2 separate regions of the Homo sapiens genome follow, and region 2 is linked to region 1. Evidence: fine-mapped expression QTL. Tissue or cell type: esophagus muscle. Region 1 holds a variant in brackets; the other region holds the start of a gene. All regions are shown on one strand. Distances are between the middles of the regions.

Region 1 (8,401 bases):
GAATAAAGAGAGAAAAGACTAGGCATAGTGGAAAACGATATTTGTAACACTGATTACTGAAAAAACTGTCATATTCAGAGTATATAAATACTGTCAGAAATCAACATGAAAAAGGCTACGGTGAGGGGGAAAGATGAGCAAATTACATGATTAGTATTTTCATAGAAGAGGAAATTCAAATGAAATGCCATTGAATATATGGAAATGTTTAGATAAAATTACACACTAACTAGAATGACTAAAAATAATGACAACACTAAGTAAAGATGCAGACAACGGGGAATCATTTTGGTTCAATTACTTTGTAAAATAATTTGGCATTACCTAGTAAATTTGAAAATGTGCATACTTGAGGACCCAGTAGTTCCATTCCTAGATGTATAACCTACAAACTCTTGTACATATTCAAGAGGTACACAAAAGAATGCTCATAAGATTGCTATTTGAAATGACAAAAAGACTGAAAACAATACACATATTAAAAATATAATAAGTAATTTGTAGTGTACTTATACAATGGATATTGTTCAGCAGTGAAAAAAGAATGGAATAAAGGCCCAGGCATCTGGGTGGATTAATCTCAGTAACATACCAATATACCAGTGAGAAAAAAAAAAGCTTACAGCCGAATACACTTGTGAGATTCCATAACTTAAATTTCAAAACAAGTAAAACAACAAAAAAATCAAAACAAGGAAAACCAAACAAAATATTGCTCAAACTATTTTTAGTTAGTGTTGATATTTAGTTTACAACTACTACCTTATGTTATAAAACTATAAATAAAAGCAAGGAGATGTTTAACACCAAATTCAGGATATTGAATACCTCTGATGCAAAGATGGAGATTGGGATTGTCAAGGGACAACAGATTTGAAAAAACTAGTGTCTGTTGCTTAAGCAGGATGGTGTAAGTAGAAAGGTGTTGATTTTGCGAAATTATTTTCTGTTCATATTCGCTAAACTGTACATTTATTGTCACACTATTTTGTATACAGGATGTTTTTAAAAATACAAATATCCTATTTGCAAAGTAAAGAATGAAAATGAATAGGACTGAGACCAGACTGCAGGCAAGAACATTGGCTGGGCTACAGGCTGCTGCTGCCAGGGGAGAAATCATCATAGCTGGAGTCAAATAAAGTGGGAATTGGGGAGGTTAGGGGGAGAGGAAAAGGATTTAAAGGGACTATCTGGAGATTAACAGTTAAAAAAAAAAAAAAGTATTTCACACAAACTTAGTGTATAAGTAGTACTTGTCATGGTCTCTCTTTTCTTTTTAAATAAACTTATTAATTGAAGTATAACATACATAGAGAGCAGTGAAGCAAAAGTGTTCATCAGTAAGTTTTATAAAGTAAAAACACGTGTGTAACCGTACTATGCAGAACAAGAAACAGACCATGAACAACACTCCAGAAGCCCCCTTTGTCGCCCCTTCTGATCACCACCACCCCTTCCTGCCCAAAGATTACCATCCTGACTCCTAACATCATGGAATAGTTTCACTTTTTTGGGCTTTACGTAAACGAAGTGGTCAGGTATGTATTCTTTTGTGTCTGGCTTCTCCAACAACATTATGTTGTGTATTTCATGTATTTTCTATGTATAGCAGTATATCATTAATGTTTATTTCTATATAACATTTCGTTGGTTGATCCTACCACAAATATTTATACATTTTACTGTGGCAGAACATTTATGTTGTTTCTTGTTTTGGGTTGTTATGAAGAAAGCTGCAATTAACACTCCTGTGCATGGATTTTTTTGTACATATTTCAGTTGAAAATATATATATGCTTGTGTTCCACTTGTGTAGGTGCTGACGAAAGTGTCAGTTTTACAAAGTAGTTGAGTCCATTTACAATCCTACCAAGAGTTTATGGAATTCCTACTTACTTCATATCCTCATAATATTTTAGATTTTCAGTCTTCTTAAAAATTTGTCATTCTATTCAGTATATGGTGATATTTCGTTGTGGTTTTAATTTGCATTTCTCTGATGATTAGCAACTCAGAACACCTTCACACATATTCGTTGGGTATTTAAATACCCCTTTTCATTCTTGTTTGAATTCTTGGCTATTTTGCTATTGGGTGGTATGTCTTTTTCTGGCCGATTTAAAGACTAATAAAATTGGCAATACTTTTAGTGGAATGTTGAAGAGTAAATTATTAAATTCAGCAAGACAGAAAAAGGAGCAGAAGAGGTACAACTATGACTTAATTCTGGGCCTTACTTTGGTCATCTTTGGAAGAGTGTTAATCTGCCAGTATAAAACAGAATTATTTCTGAAATCGAAAACCAAAATGACTTTCTAGACTCACCTGCTGCACCAGCATTGTATAAAATTGTGGCACATTTTCTAAATCCTCTCTGGCAAATGCGAGAAACTTACCTTTAATTTGTCATTTGTGATTCCTCTTTTGTGTGGGTATTTACTGTCTGTGAGCTTTTGAAAAGTATAGAGAGAAAAAGGCTGAGGATGGGAAGAAAAGAGAGGGGTCTCTTTTAGCACTCTTTTCTGTGCATGATTGCTGATTTGAGAAGTCATAGCAGCCATGGTCTGGGAGATTTTCAGCCTTAGTTCATGAAATTGTCTTTCTAAAATACAATTCTTCTGTATAGTGGGAATATTCCTGTTTCAAAGAGAACGTGAAGGACCATCTTTCCTCTTCCCTAGAAATATTAGTTTGTTCATGATATAAAAATGGACAAGAGTGTTTATTTCTCTCAGAATATCATCTGTTCTTCCAACAAGAAGCACTGTTTAATAATAGACATAATGTCAGTCTTCCCATTTTATAAAGATACTTTTTTTCTTATCCTTTTACTTAACTAGATATCCTACATGGTTTTTGAGAAACTTGCTTGATTTTGCCACATTTTACAGAGGCCTTACAGAATTCCATAAATGTATTTCACAGTCAAAAGTTTCACCAGAACTGGAAGTTAACATGGTTTCCATCTTTCATCAGAATTAGAGAGAGAGAGAGAGAGAGAGAGTGTTAGTGAGTATGTGTTTTAATTCTTGTTGTGTCATCTAATTATACTTTTCCAGTTTAAAAAAAAGTTATAAGGTGTCAAAAATTATGAGGGAGGTGAGGTGCAAGAAAAGGAATAAATCAATCGGTGAATGAATGAAAAAATGCCATGAGTGATTTCATATTAATTCAAATGAAGTAATTTGATAACAAAGGCCTTTATTATGCAATGATAACAGTGATAATACTGATGACAATATTGGTAGATATCTGCTAATGACAGGTATCTTTTCCACCGTGTTTTCTTTGGAGCTTCGTAGTTGCTTTGGAAGGATGTTATTTCGTATAGAATTCTAAAAGAATAACAAATTCTTTGGAAGTTTCATTGAGTGAAGTGGACATGTTGACTATTAATGATGATGATTTTTGACGTAACCTTAGAGAAGAGAAAAGAATGTTTGAAGGGTGGGAAATGGTTTCATCTATTTCGGGAGATAGATAGGTTTGACTTGAGCTGTCATTTATATGAATATGTGCTATAAAGGGCCTGATTTTGATGCTAGTCGAAAGCACCTGACAAGAGTAATTACCTATCACCAGTCCTCTTGGACATTGCATGTACTTTAGTTCTAGTGAGTGGAGCAAATAGAGGGGAAACAGTATCTCTGCACTGAAAAGGTTATATTGTCCAGCATAGGAAAATAAAAATCTACAACCTAACATTGATGTAATTTCAGATTTTTTTTAGTTGGTATTCAGCAACTAAATTTTTGTAAATTTTGGAACTACTAAGTGCCAGGGAATTACACTAGGAATGGGCTCTACTCTCAAGAAGAAATAGAAATGGACATACAAAGAAGGACATTATAACCCAAGTGATATATGTATCAATAGTACTTCATATCTACAAGTTAATCACTGAAAATGTGATTAACTTTCCAGGACGAAGTTGATTAAAAGGAAAGTCATCTGTACTAGATTTTCAAGTGTCTTTAACGTTACCAGGTGAAAAAGGGGGAGAAAAATATTCCAGACAAAGGAAACAGTATTTGCAGAGGTACCAAGATATGAAAAAGCTTGGCATGTTAGAAAAACTACAAGCATTTAGTGTTCTTAGAGGGTGAAGCGTAAGGGAGGATAAATGGATACTTAAGTACAGTGTATAACCTCTTGCTGAGGCCTGAAAAATCCAGTCAAAGTTGGCTTGAAGAACATTAAGAGGAAGGGCTAGTGGCCAGCCATAGTAAGTCTTTTCTTCCCTTTCTACCCCATTTGCTTTCCAATGCAGTTGTACTTATGAGTCAAGATTGAATGTTGTCCCCTAATGAAATGTAATGACAAACAGTTTGAACGTGTTAATAGAGTATGGATAGGCATAATGCATTTGAGATCATGAGGAAACATCAGTAAAGAATATTCAGTGTTTTTTTTTGTTGTTGTTGTTGTTCCAAGTGTTTTCTGACATATTCAAAAAGAAAAAGAGTAAAAATTATTTGAAAAGCAAGTTGGAAAAAAGAAAACTCTGCTCTGGGCCTGCTACAGTGAGAGATCCATCTATACAGATTCATCGTTCTTAAGGAGATAGAAGGATAGCAATGACTGGCATAAGCAAATTTTCCATACTTCAAACTCTCAGAGGATGAGTCACACCAAGTGTCTATCGCACCATGTACCCC[C/T]TGGCCTTTTTTCAACCCTGCTGCTGGGTACCAGGGGAAGGGCAGGATGTGAAAGCTGATGGAATGAAGGCACACAAAGCAAGGTAGTATGCCTCTTGCAGGAACTTTTCTTCACTAAGGCCAACAGGATCTGAAGCGATAAGGCCCTAACTGGAATAATAGGAGTAAGCATGTGATGAGAAACATTTGTCACTAAAAGCAGCAAACTTTCAAGACAAGCTCTGATGCTTCAGATCAGCTAGCAGACACCAGTGTTTCTCTTCGTATGTAGAAGACAAAGTATGATTAAAACGTGCACTTGACGGATAAGCTACTTCACTAGGTTTTTACAAAGATTGTATGAGATAATATATGTAAAATCCTTAACACAATGCCTGGCACAAGGGAAATGCTCTGCATAGATAGTAAATATCATCTTATTCTTCATCTCACCATTAATTTTTGTTTTTATTTTGAGAATTGAGGCTCAAATTAATACATACTATTAACAGGTACAGAGGTCTTTCTGTTTTGATAAATATTTTTATATTCTAATGATGTTAATACATAAAGTTTAAGTAGTAATTTAGTTAAGTAATCTATGCATTAATCTTGAAGTCATAGTTAATTGAAATATTTGTATATCCCATAAGTACAAAGTAAAGATGTAGTGGCAGTGTACAGTATCAAGATCAGTAACAGTAGTGGAGATGGCAATTCTATGAGGGAGGGAAATATTGATAAATCTAAAAACAGAACCTATAGAGATAACTCCCCACTATGTCTGTGGGAGTGCCAAAGAAGAGAATGTGATAGATGTCTTAGAGGCAGAATTGACAGGATTTGATGACAAAATTTAAATAAATTTTGGAAAAGGAGGCAATCAAGATGAATCCTAGCTTGCTGCTCTTTAGTGAACTGAGAAAACAAAGGATGAAGATCACTTGGAAGCCTCTTGTGAATGGAGGTCCTGGTAGAGGGCTTGGAATTGGGTGCAGATCTCAGAAACAAATGTCAGGACTGGACACACAGGCTTGGGGTCATTTGCAAGAGATTATAGTCCTTGACACACTATGTTTTAGTGTTTTATTTTAAAGGACACAAAAATCTGAATAAAATGTGGATTTATACCTTTTTTTTTTTTTTTTAAATCACATTTACAATAAACTTTAATGGTGAATCAATGCAACCCAAAGCCAAGGTAGCCCTCTCCATTTGGTGATAAAATATTTGGATGAGAACAAAATAAAAATAACCATCATTTCTAGCATTGACCAAGTAAAATCAAATATAGTAGATGGTACTTCTTTTAAAAGAATTTAAAAATCTAGCAGAACGTGACAGAGTATTTTGTGTAAGGTATTCTTCCCCTCAGTATTTATTTATTAAAATTATAATTTTCAACCTATCTTTCCTTGAGGAATATTTGATGTTAAGGAACAGAAACCTATTCAGAGAAACTCAGATTAAAACTGAGTATACTGCAAGGATACAGGGATTCTCCGGAAATCTGATTACTGGAGTATAGCATGCCTTCACAGATTAGAATCCAATTATGTAATATGTTTTAGCTTTAGGTTTCAATAAAGCCATATCCACCAAAGCGTTCTTGTTAAGGGATGCATTTTAAATTAAATAAATGTTAATATATGTGGTACTACAATGCCGTGGGGACTATACCATTAGCAAATGTGAAATATCTCATCACCTGATTAAGAATGCACAGTGTTTTAGAAGTCCTCCATAGCAGCCATCTTATTTAGTCAGATTGCCCATTAATGCTTTGTTAAGATTATAGTCATCTTGAATTCTCACAACACTTATGACCTTCCAAGGACAGACTATGTTTAGTCACTGGGTTGTATTAACTGCTATTAACATCAGTGCTTATCTGAGATCTTCATCAGTTACAGCTGAAATGTGTGAGATGTACCTGCACACAGATGTGTTGGACTAATGGCCAGAAGGCAGCAAACCCTACCATTTTCCTTGTTATTTAAATATTTTTAATTCTGTCTCTGATGGCTTCCCCTGTCACCTCATGAGTAAGTAGGGCTAATACTGGCTGCAGCAAAATCACACTCTCCATTTATCATACTAATTGCAGTTTAATGAGGAGAGGCCCGAGGCTGGAAGACTTGTCTACGTAGAATACTATTGGAGTGGAGTTTATTATGGTTATTAGTACAGCCTGCGATAATTAAATTGCTTTACTAGATAGGTACTGTATTTATCATAAAGATTCACTATAGCAAAACTTTTGATGATATTCAAAGAGCAGTTTTGAAAGTCAAGTTCTCTGACGTTTTCTTTAGGAGAAATTCTAGTTTGGATCCCATTTTCCAATATTTCTCCTCAGAGCAGGACTGGCTACATCATCTGTGAAGCCCAGTTCAAAATGGAACTGCAGGGCCTCTTGTTGAACAAGCACAAAGGAAGTGTTAAAATATAAAGCTTTCTTCTTTCTTCTACGTATCCTCTTTGCTATTATGCATAATGCATACTTCATGGTCCCATTGGACTTTACTTGTAAAACACAAGTTCAAAGATAAAATCATTAAACATTTCAAAATAATGACAGCATGCAGCTCATCTGAGTGTGGTATCCTGTGTGAGTGCACAGACTGCACTTCTGTGAAGCTGAAAGAAAGAAGTGTAAATGGCAAACCATTTTTACAGAGTTGAGACTGAGCTAATCTTTTGCTAGACCTTGTCATGCAATATAGTATGAAGGAAGCCCAGTCAAATTTGGGAAACAGACAACTGGAGCTGAGGTTGGGGATAACCTTGAGGGCAACCAGGACAATGAAAACGAACCGGCAATAAGGACTAGTAACTTCCGTCTCAGTCAGGAAGCTGCCTGTTTCCTGCAAAGGCAGGAAGTCATTCCAAGATGTAGTCACATTAAAGTCCTTAGGAGGGAAAAAAAGAGCTAAGATAAAAGAATGAGAAGTAGTTTAAATTAACCAATAATTAAAGGTAGCTACTGTATTAACACAAACATGCTAGCATATTCCAACTGAATAATAAAATTTTCCAGATTTTCTGTTTTTTCCCTTCATGCACATTATTTAAATATTGCAGAATGCACTTGAATAAAAATATTCTAAACTGTATTGAAGAAGGTGGAGTGGTTTGTGTTGTGGCTAAACTGGGTTTTTCTTTGTTTAGTTTGATGACTAATCTCTTTCCTAATCATTGGACAAACTCAATAGGACCTAGTACATTATCCCACACATAAATGAAGTCGGTAAATGTTTATGGAAATAATTATATATAATTTACTCTCTACAATGAGTGACTAGTAGGCCTCTTAGGAATATGTTCCCAGGTACTGAACACTCATTGAAATCAGAGCACTAAAAGTACTCTACTTCCACTATGAAGTGGAAGGCAGATATTGTCCAAATATGGAACACCAGTAATAAATAAGCAAACAATGGCTCAGCTGAGAGACTATTCTGCTCTAATTTCCTGATGTAAGTTGTTATTTCACTGGTGAGTAACATCTTCTTGTCACAACATCATTTATAATAATAATAATGATGATCACACAGAATCACCTGTGAATGTCCTAGTCCCCATAGTTTAATATAGAACATCACTCAAATTTAAGTGAGGTCTTTGTTAAGTTCTGTAAATTGAGCTTATAAAGACAAACACTATTTGGAATATTTTTTGATGGCTTGATGGAGAAAGACATCTATTTATTCACTCAACAGTTATTTATCAAGTGCCTGAACAGTACTAGACCCTAAGAA
Region 2 (8,000 bases), 770 kb before region 1:
GTGTAGTTTGTTGCTGACATTCATAATAGAAGGAAACACTAAATTTCAGATGGGGATTAGTGAAAATAAATACTTTTTTCCCCTATTCATGCTCACAGACCCCTTAAATTCTACCCTGCACTAAACCCTCCTGGATACTTCACTATAGTCCCGCTTCAAGTTGTCAACTTCCTACATTTCAAATAATTAGATTTTCCTTTCTCTAATGGCAGTCTTCCAGATGTACTAGTTTGTCCAGCTTCTGACATACACATGGAGGACCTGCTGCAGATGAGGCTACACAAAATGAGGAGGGAATGTACAAATATGTCAGGCCAGAAGTGTAAAATCCCAGACCATGGGATCATTTTCCTAGAGGGCTTTGAAAGAAGACTCCCTTGAACAGGTTTCAAGTGACCCAATGGAAACTGAACAGTTCATGCTGCTCTCTTGTAAGGGCGTACAGTAATTTTAGCCAACACACTTAGATACTAATGCACCTTCATGCTCTGTTAACACATTCAGATAGCACTTATACTTTCAGACCCCTTACAAACACTGAAGTCAATGCTTGCTTCTAAGTTTGGCTAAGGGTCCTAGAAAGTAAGGCTTATACTTCTCTGTAACAGCCACCATTTATGGTCACTCCAAAATAGAGACAAACAACATGAATTTCTCTTAAAAATTAATATATAACATATGATTACTTATCTTGAGCCAGCATCCTACCTCATATATATAATCCTGATCTGATTAGGTAAAGGCCAGGAGGGAGAAATAGACAGCAGAAGAGTATTCAATTATATATACTTTAAATAAATTACTTAAAATGCTACTCAAGTGAGAGGTTATAATAATTGTAATGATCTATTACAATGACACGCCTTAATGATTTTAGCATACTGGGAAAACCATATTTGAAAAATAAATTTTGTTCTGAAAATTGATTTTGGAAATATTTGGTTAAGAATGGTAGTTACTTTGCTAAGATCTATAAATGGAATTCCCAAAGCAATCCCTTGCATTTATTAAAAAAACAAAAATTGTCTTGAATATAAATTATGTAATTAACATAAAGATTCTGGTAAATGCAGAGAAGTACAAAGAATACTTAAATCCTCTCTCTCCATAACTCCCATCAACTACTGTTAACATTCTGATGTCTGTCTTTCTAGTCTTATTTTTTTTAATTTTAGTTATTTACTTTTTTTTTTTTTGAGACAAGAGTCTCAGTCTGTCGCCCAGGCTGGAGTGCAGTGGTGTGATCTGGGCTCACTGCAACTTCCGCCTCCCGGGTTCAAGGGATTCTCTTGCCTCAGCCTGCCCAGTAGCTGGGATTACAGGTATGCGCCATCACACCCGGCTAATTTTTGTATTTTTAGTAGACACAGGGTTTCACCATGCTGGCCAGTCTGGTCTCGAACTCCCGACCTCAGGTGATCGGATGGCCTCGGCCTCCCAAAGTGCTGAAATTATAGACGTGAGCCACCACACCTGGCCTTTCCGTTCTTTTTTAAACACAAATTTGCCACGTGTTGCATCCCGCCTTTTTTTTCTCCTTAAAGGAAACAGTAAATTAATTATGAACAGTTTTTGATATTACTAAAAATTATTTGAAAATATGGCCTTAATGGCTCCATAATAGTCTTTACTAACAAAAGTCTTTGTATCTTTAATTATAGATAAGCCTACATGTGACAGAGAAATGTAGTAAACAACTAAAATGTTAAGTTTTGCTGGTAAAGGGAAAGCTTTGAAGTAGATTTGTTTCCTATGGAAAATATATGTAATGTAAGTAAACACTTAACTGGCTGACATATTTAAAATACTTTCCCAGGCAAGTAAAACCAGTGGGACTTGGAAATACTGATTTTAAAATTTAAGACTGGTTTTGTTAAAAATCTCAAAGTAGGCTGGGCACCGTGGCTCACGCCTGTAATCTCAGCACTTTGGGAGGCCAAGGCAGGCGGATCATGAGGTCAGGAGTTCCAGACCAGCCTGGCCAATATAGTGAAACCCCGTCTCTACTAAAAATACAAAAAATAGCCGGGTGTGGTGGTGCGCGCCTGTAGTCCCAGCTACCTGGGAGGCTGAGGCAGAAGAATCGCTTGAACCCGGGCGGCGGAGGTTGCAGTGAGCCGAGATCGCGCGACCGCACTCCAGCCTGGGTGCCTGGGTGACAGAGCAAGACTTCATCTCAAATAAAAAAAAAAAAAAAGTCCCAAAGTGGTTAACTGAAAGTACTTACTTTCAGCAAGTAAGAACTGTAAATGTTTAAGAGGACAAAACAGTTTTTCTCATTTATCACTCCCAACCAACCCATCCTAAGTCATAACAACATTCCATTTAACTCTAGGGATTCAGAATTTGAAGCATTACTTTTTTCACTGAATACTGGCATGGAACATGCTGTAACTGAACCATAAAAACCAACTACACACCTACAGAATGTCAAATGATCTGCAGGAAAAGCAGGTTACTGAATAGCAAGCAAGAGACAGCCTTTATCTATAGCCACTGTTCACTTTTGGTTAATTTTAACATCCAGATGTAGCAGGCTACAACTTTCACAGTATCTACTTCGTCTGACGTGTCATTCCTGAAAGTGGCCATTAGCTTTGTACACTGGACAGAAATGCAAATAATCAAAAACCAAATTGGCAGGACACAAATTTGCCACGAGGTTTATCATCAACCCAAATGCATACTTCTAACCTTTTCCCCCATTTCCCTCAAAAGTACACTCTGTAATAGGTTCTTCATGTCTGAGAAACATAAGGAATATCCATTAACTACACAGGCTTTGGGGAAGGTGGCTTTCAGTAATAATCTTTGTAAGATGCAAACAAAAAGGAAGAAAGAAAAATGAAATGTTTGACCTCCCGAGCACTGTGTTTAGCAACTTTTCTGTTTAATCAAACTTTTTGTGAATCATTATTCAACCTATCAATGTCTTCCTTCGCTGAAATAGTACCTGAAAAAGACAGGATGTGCTGAAGGCACTTTGAGATGTTTCAGGAACTGTTTCAGTTTGCCCAACATCCTCGATGCAAACTCGGGACTAGGGCCACCCACTTTCCCTCAGCTGCGGCTTTTGGGGTAACCACTACCTCTTCTAAAATCTGATCAGTGGAAACCATACCTTTCTTCACAGCTAGAACTCCCCTTTATTCCCCTCCCCGCCCTCCTAGGTGAGAACCAGGCCCGCCCAGGGCCCGGAGGCAGCCCAGGGGGTGCCGCCCAAGCCCAGATTCCGGGGGTGTAACCGGGGTACACGTGTCTCCGGAATCTCCCCTCCCACCCTTTGGCGGGACACCACCTACTCTTCGCTTTGCTTAGGTGCAGGGAGTGGTCGGCGACCGATACCCGGGATGCCTCTCCCGGGTACACTTGTCCACCCGCGTAGAAGTGGCACTCCTCTTCGCGAGTCCGGGGCCTCTCCTCTGTCTCCCAGCCCTGCACAGCTCCAGCCGGCAGCAGGAACAGCAGTAGCGGCAGCAGAAGCAGCCTTCGGTGGCGGCCGTGGTCCGGAGTTGTCGCGGCTAGCAGCGGCAGCGCCTCCATGACCACGCGAGCGCAGAAACACGTCCCTTGGCGCGAGCGCCGCTTCTGCCGCCGCCGGGCAGCTACAACCGCGTGCACGACGCCCGCGCGAACCGGGGCGCGGCCTCGCGAGACCAGCTCCTCCCCCTACCCCCCCTATCTGCTCCCCGCCCCGCCACGTGGGCGCCGGCCGCACCTCCCCCATCCCAAGCCTGCATTTGCGCCTGCGTCCCGCGGCTGACCAGGACCGGGAGCGTTGCCCAACTCTGTGAAGGCAGCGACAAGGTCTCCTGACCTCCGCGCTGTTTTAGACATCTTTCCACGTCCATCTCTTCCACAAAGCCTCACCACTGCACACAAGCCCCTCACAAGCGGAATCTAACCTATATGCTTGTGAATGGCTTGCATTTTATACTTCTAATAAGCTTTTTAAAAAGTCACTTAACGTTTTTAAAAATTATATTTACTTGACAAATCATAATTGTATACATTCGTGGGATGCAATGTGATTTTTTGAAATATGTATCCAATGTGGGATGATTACATCACATTAACTTATCCATCGCCTTGTTTACCTATGACTTTTATGGTGAGACATTTCAAATTTACTCTTATTCATTTTGAAATATACATTATTATTGACTGTATTTACCCTGCTGCTTACCAGAGGTTGGGAAGTAGGGAAGGCGAGGCGAGAGGGAAGGAATGGGGAGTTAGTTGTTGGTCAGAGGTTACCAAGTTCCAGATAGACAGGAATAAGTTTCAAGATCTAATAGACATTTACTAATTTTTTTTCTTGAAGTGATTTGTGTGAACGGGGCCATGATCTGCACTACTTGCAGCTCTTTTAAGTCCTGGAAAAACTTAGGGAGGGTAGGTCTAACCATTTACTTTCCTCCAGCATGCAAGGGCGTACAGGCAGTTTTTAGTGACCTAATCTATTGTTTCAAAGACAGCTTTTTTTTTTTTTAATTTAAATGAAGACTTGAAAAGTTACCAGAAAACTCTCCCAGCAGTGTTGTTCCTTTTTCTGACAATTACCCCATCACCCAACCCCTGGCCTTTTCCCTGCCCTCCCCACCCATCTCCCCGCCGTGGGCACCGCCCCGCTTGCCGCTGCAACCTGCCGTGTGCGTCTGCGCACTGGGGGCAGGCCCAGGCCACCGAGCGTCCACCAACTGGACTAAGACCACCTTGTGTCGTCACTTGTGACCGATCTTCTGCACTCCCACCCTCAGCACTGTTTTAGACCCTGTTCATCCTTCTGGGCCCATCTTGTACACAAAACTTCGCAGGTGACTGGCCTCGCGCCCTCAGCACTGTTGTAGGCCTTCTCATCCTTCACACCTATTTCTTCCACAAAGCTTCGCCCATGGCTGTCTTCCCACCATTGAAGTGCCAACGACCCTCGCCGCCAGCACTTGTTAGACATCCTTCCACGCCCATCTCTCCCAAAAAGCCTCCTCATCCCACGCCACCCCCGCCCCTCAAAGGGAAACTGACCTTTCTGCCTCTGAATAGCTCGCGTTTTATCCCTCTAACAGACATTTCTTATTCTTTTCCTTGCAGTGATCTTTGTGAACAGCCATGACTCCTCTCTCAAGTCGGAGCCCTTTTCAGGTCCCCAGAAAACTTGGAGAAGAAAAGTCTAACCTGAAAAGCCATATCCCTAGACCATTTCTTCTCTTCCAGCTGGAAAGGAACTATGGGGCAAACAGGCAATGTTGCAACTTAACCCTGTGTTAGGTTGTTTTTTTTTTTTTTTTTTTTTTTAGACAGAGTCTCGCTCTGTCGCACAGGCTGGAGTGCAGTGGCAATCTCGGCTCACTGCAACCTCCACCTCCCAGGTTCAAGTAATTCTCCTGCCTCGGCCTGCCGAGTAGCTGGGATTACAGGTGCGCGCCACCATGCCCAGCTAATTGTGATCCGCCCACCTTGGCCTCCCAAAGTGCTGGGATTACAGGCATGAGCCTGTATGATCCCAGGGTGCCCTCTGTCCTCCTGCAAGTGCTTGTTATCTTTCTTTTTAAATTAAAAAAAATTTTTTGTGGCTACATAGTAGGTATATGTATATATATATGTATATGTATATATATATATTTATGGGGTATATGGGATATTTTGATTCAGGCACACAGTGTGTAACAATCACATCATGGCAAATGGGTTATCCATCACCTCAAGCATTTATCATTTGTGTTACAAACAATCCAATTATACTCTTTTAGTTATTTTAGGGTATACAATTAAATTGTTATTGACTATAGTCACCCTGTTGTGCTATCAAATACTAGGTCTTATTCATTCTATATTTCTGTACCCACTAACCATCCCCACTTTCCTCCCCAGCCCCCCACTACCCTTCCCAGCCTCTAGTAACCATTCTTCTACTCTCTATCTCTATGAGTTCAATTGTTTTAATTTTTAGCTCCCACAATTAAGTGAGAACATGTTAAGTTTGTTTTCTGTAAGCACCTGTTATCTTTCTGAATCCTGCAGAAACCATCCTAAGTTTGTCTTTCCTCTACTAGACTGTGGGCTGTCTGGGGCTGAAATCAATGTGTAATAGGTCTTTGTTTCCCAAAGAACCTGGCCCACAGTAAGCAACTGACATTGCAAACACCTGATTTTATAAATAACACCTAATATTGCAGACAGCCTCAGTTTCAAGTTGCTTTCACATATTTTATCCTTACTCCTTGTGAAACAATCTTTTGTGGCAGATAGAAAATTTCCCCTTTCCAAACTCATCCCTCACCCTAGTTCTGCCCACTGTATACTCTGCTTTCTGCCTCCCGGCCCCTGCTTCCTGGAGGTAAAGGATGAAAAAGATGATGCCAGCCTCCTTCTGCTGAGGGAGGGTGTGTCCTTACCCATAACATTATCTGGCAGCTCTTCACTTTCTGGTGGCTCATAGATAGGAGGCCTCTGACGAGGTGGCTCTCGCTCCCAGTCTTCTCCTTCCCTGGCCTCCTGTTGCACGTGGAAGGGGAGTGGGACTCGGGGGGCTCGGGACTGAGTCCCAGGGATTCGGTTCAGGCCTGTGCCCCGTAGTCGGCTTCGGTGATCCATGGTGACTGTTGGACAAACAGCCACAAACCTCAGTGAATTCTAGGCCCAAAACTGGGCCTCTAAGTTTGGACCTGGGAAAGGAAGCTTGAGGAAAGCGTTATGTCCCTACACGTCTTTGCTCTGGGCTGAGCTGAGATGCCCTAGCTGGCAGCAGAGACTGCCCACCAAGTGGGCCCCTGTGGCCCACTGGAGAGAGTGACCAGATCGGCCAGCTCTCAGGCACCTACTGTTCGTCCCTCAGTTCTGTTGGAGCTCCCTGGCAACTGACATTCTGGGTGGCAGTTGCTCTGAATCCTTTCATCCAATGATATTTGTGCAGACATTGTGATATCACAGTGACATCAACAAGGAAGCTTGAGGTGGGGGCCCTGCCCTCAAGATACTTACCATCCAGCTGGAGTCAGTAGCCCATATTAATAATACAAAACCATCAGAGACAGGGGGCAGGTTCCAAATCCAGGATGCACCTCAGAAACACTTGGGGAGCTTAAAAACATTCTGTCTGGGCGCGGTGGCTCACGCCTGTAATCCTAACACTGTGGGAGGCCAAGAAAGGCGGATCACTAGAGGTCAGGAGTTCAAGACCACCCTGACCAACATGGTGAAACCCGGTCTCTACTAAAAATACAAAAATTAGCCGGGCGTGGTGGTGCACACCTGTAATCCCAGCTACTCAGGAGGCTGAGGCAGGAGAATTGATGGAGCCTGGAAGGCGGAGATTACAGTGAGCCAAGATTGCGTCACTGCACTCCAGCCTGGGCAACAGAGTGAGACTCCGTCTCAAACAAACAAAAAAACAAAACCAACCAACCAACCAACAAAACCATTCAAGTGCTGTGATTACAGGCCCAGAAGTGATGTTTCCTTCTTTTTTTTGAGATGGAGTCTCGCTGTGTTACCCAGGCTGGAGTGTAGTGGCATGATCTCAGCTTGCTGCAACCTCCGCCTACCGGGTTCAAGCAATTCTCCTACCTCGGTCTCCCGAGTAGGTGGGATTACAGGCACACACCACCATGCCTGGCTAATTTTTTGTATTTTTTTAGTAGAGATGGGGTTTCACTGTGCTGGCCAGGCTGGTCTCGAACTCCTGACCTCGTGATCCGCCCGCCTCGGCCTCCCAAAGTGCTGGGATTACAGGCATGAGCCACCGTGCCTGGCTTAGAAATGATGTTTCAATAGGTTTTTGGGAGGCCCCAAGCATTTTTGGTTTCACAAATGGGCACAAATAGGTTTCACAAATGGGCAAATTAAGAACCACCACTGATGGTAGTTAAAAGCACAGGTTGTGGAGTCAGGTATTTTTAAATTCAAATAGGAGCTCTGCCATCTATTGGCCTTGTGGCCTTGGTAAGTTTATTCAACCTCTCTGAGCCTCAGTGTGTTTATCTGCACATGGAAGACAGTAA

What was found. PIP is the estimated chance that this variant, and not a neighbour inherited with it, causes the effect.
Region 2: it holds the start of PRDX4, and the variant in region 1 is fine-mapped to the expression of PRDX4 in esophagus muscle (GTEx, PIP above 0.99).

What each region holds. Positions count from the first base shown.
Region 1 is chrX:22,889,044-22,897,444 of GRCh38, reverse strand. The region is part of intron 3 of PTCHD1-AS (PTCHD1 and PHEX antisense RNA); the gene reads left to right. Among named protein-coding and RNA genes, the nearest start is that of DDX53, 110 kb to the left of the region's middle. The variant C/T (reference allele first, on the strand shown) is at 4,662.
Region 2 is chrX:23,663,114-23,671,113 of GRCh38, reverse strand. It overlaps PRDX4 (peroxiredoxin 4), which reads right to left and starts at 3,621. Exons shown (of 7, transcript NM_006406.2): 1 at 3,303-3,621. The coding sequence starts at 3,543. RefSeq lists silencers at 3,159-3,288, 3,639-3,818 and enhancers at 3,568-3,862, 6,106-6,640.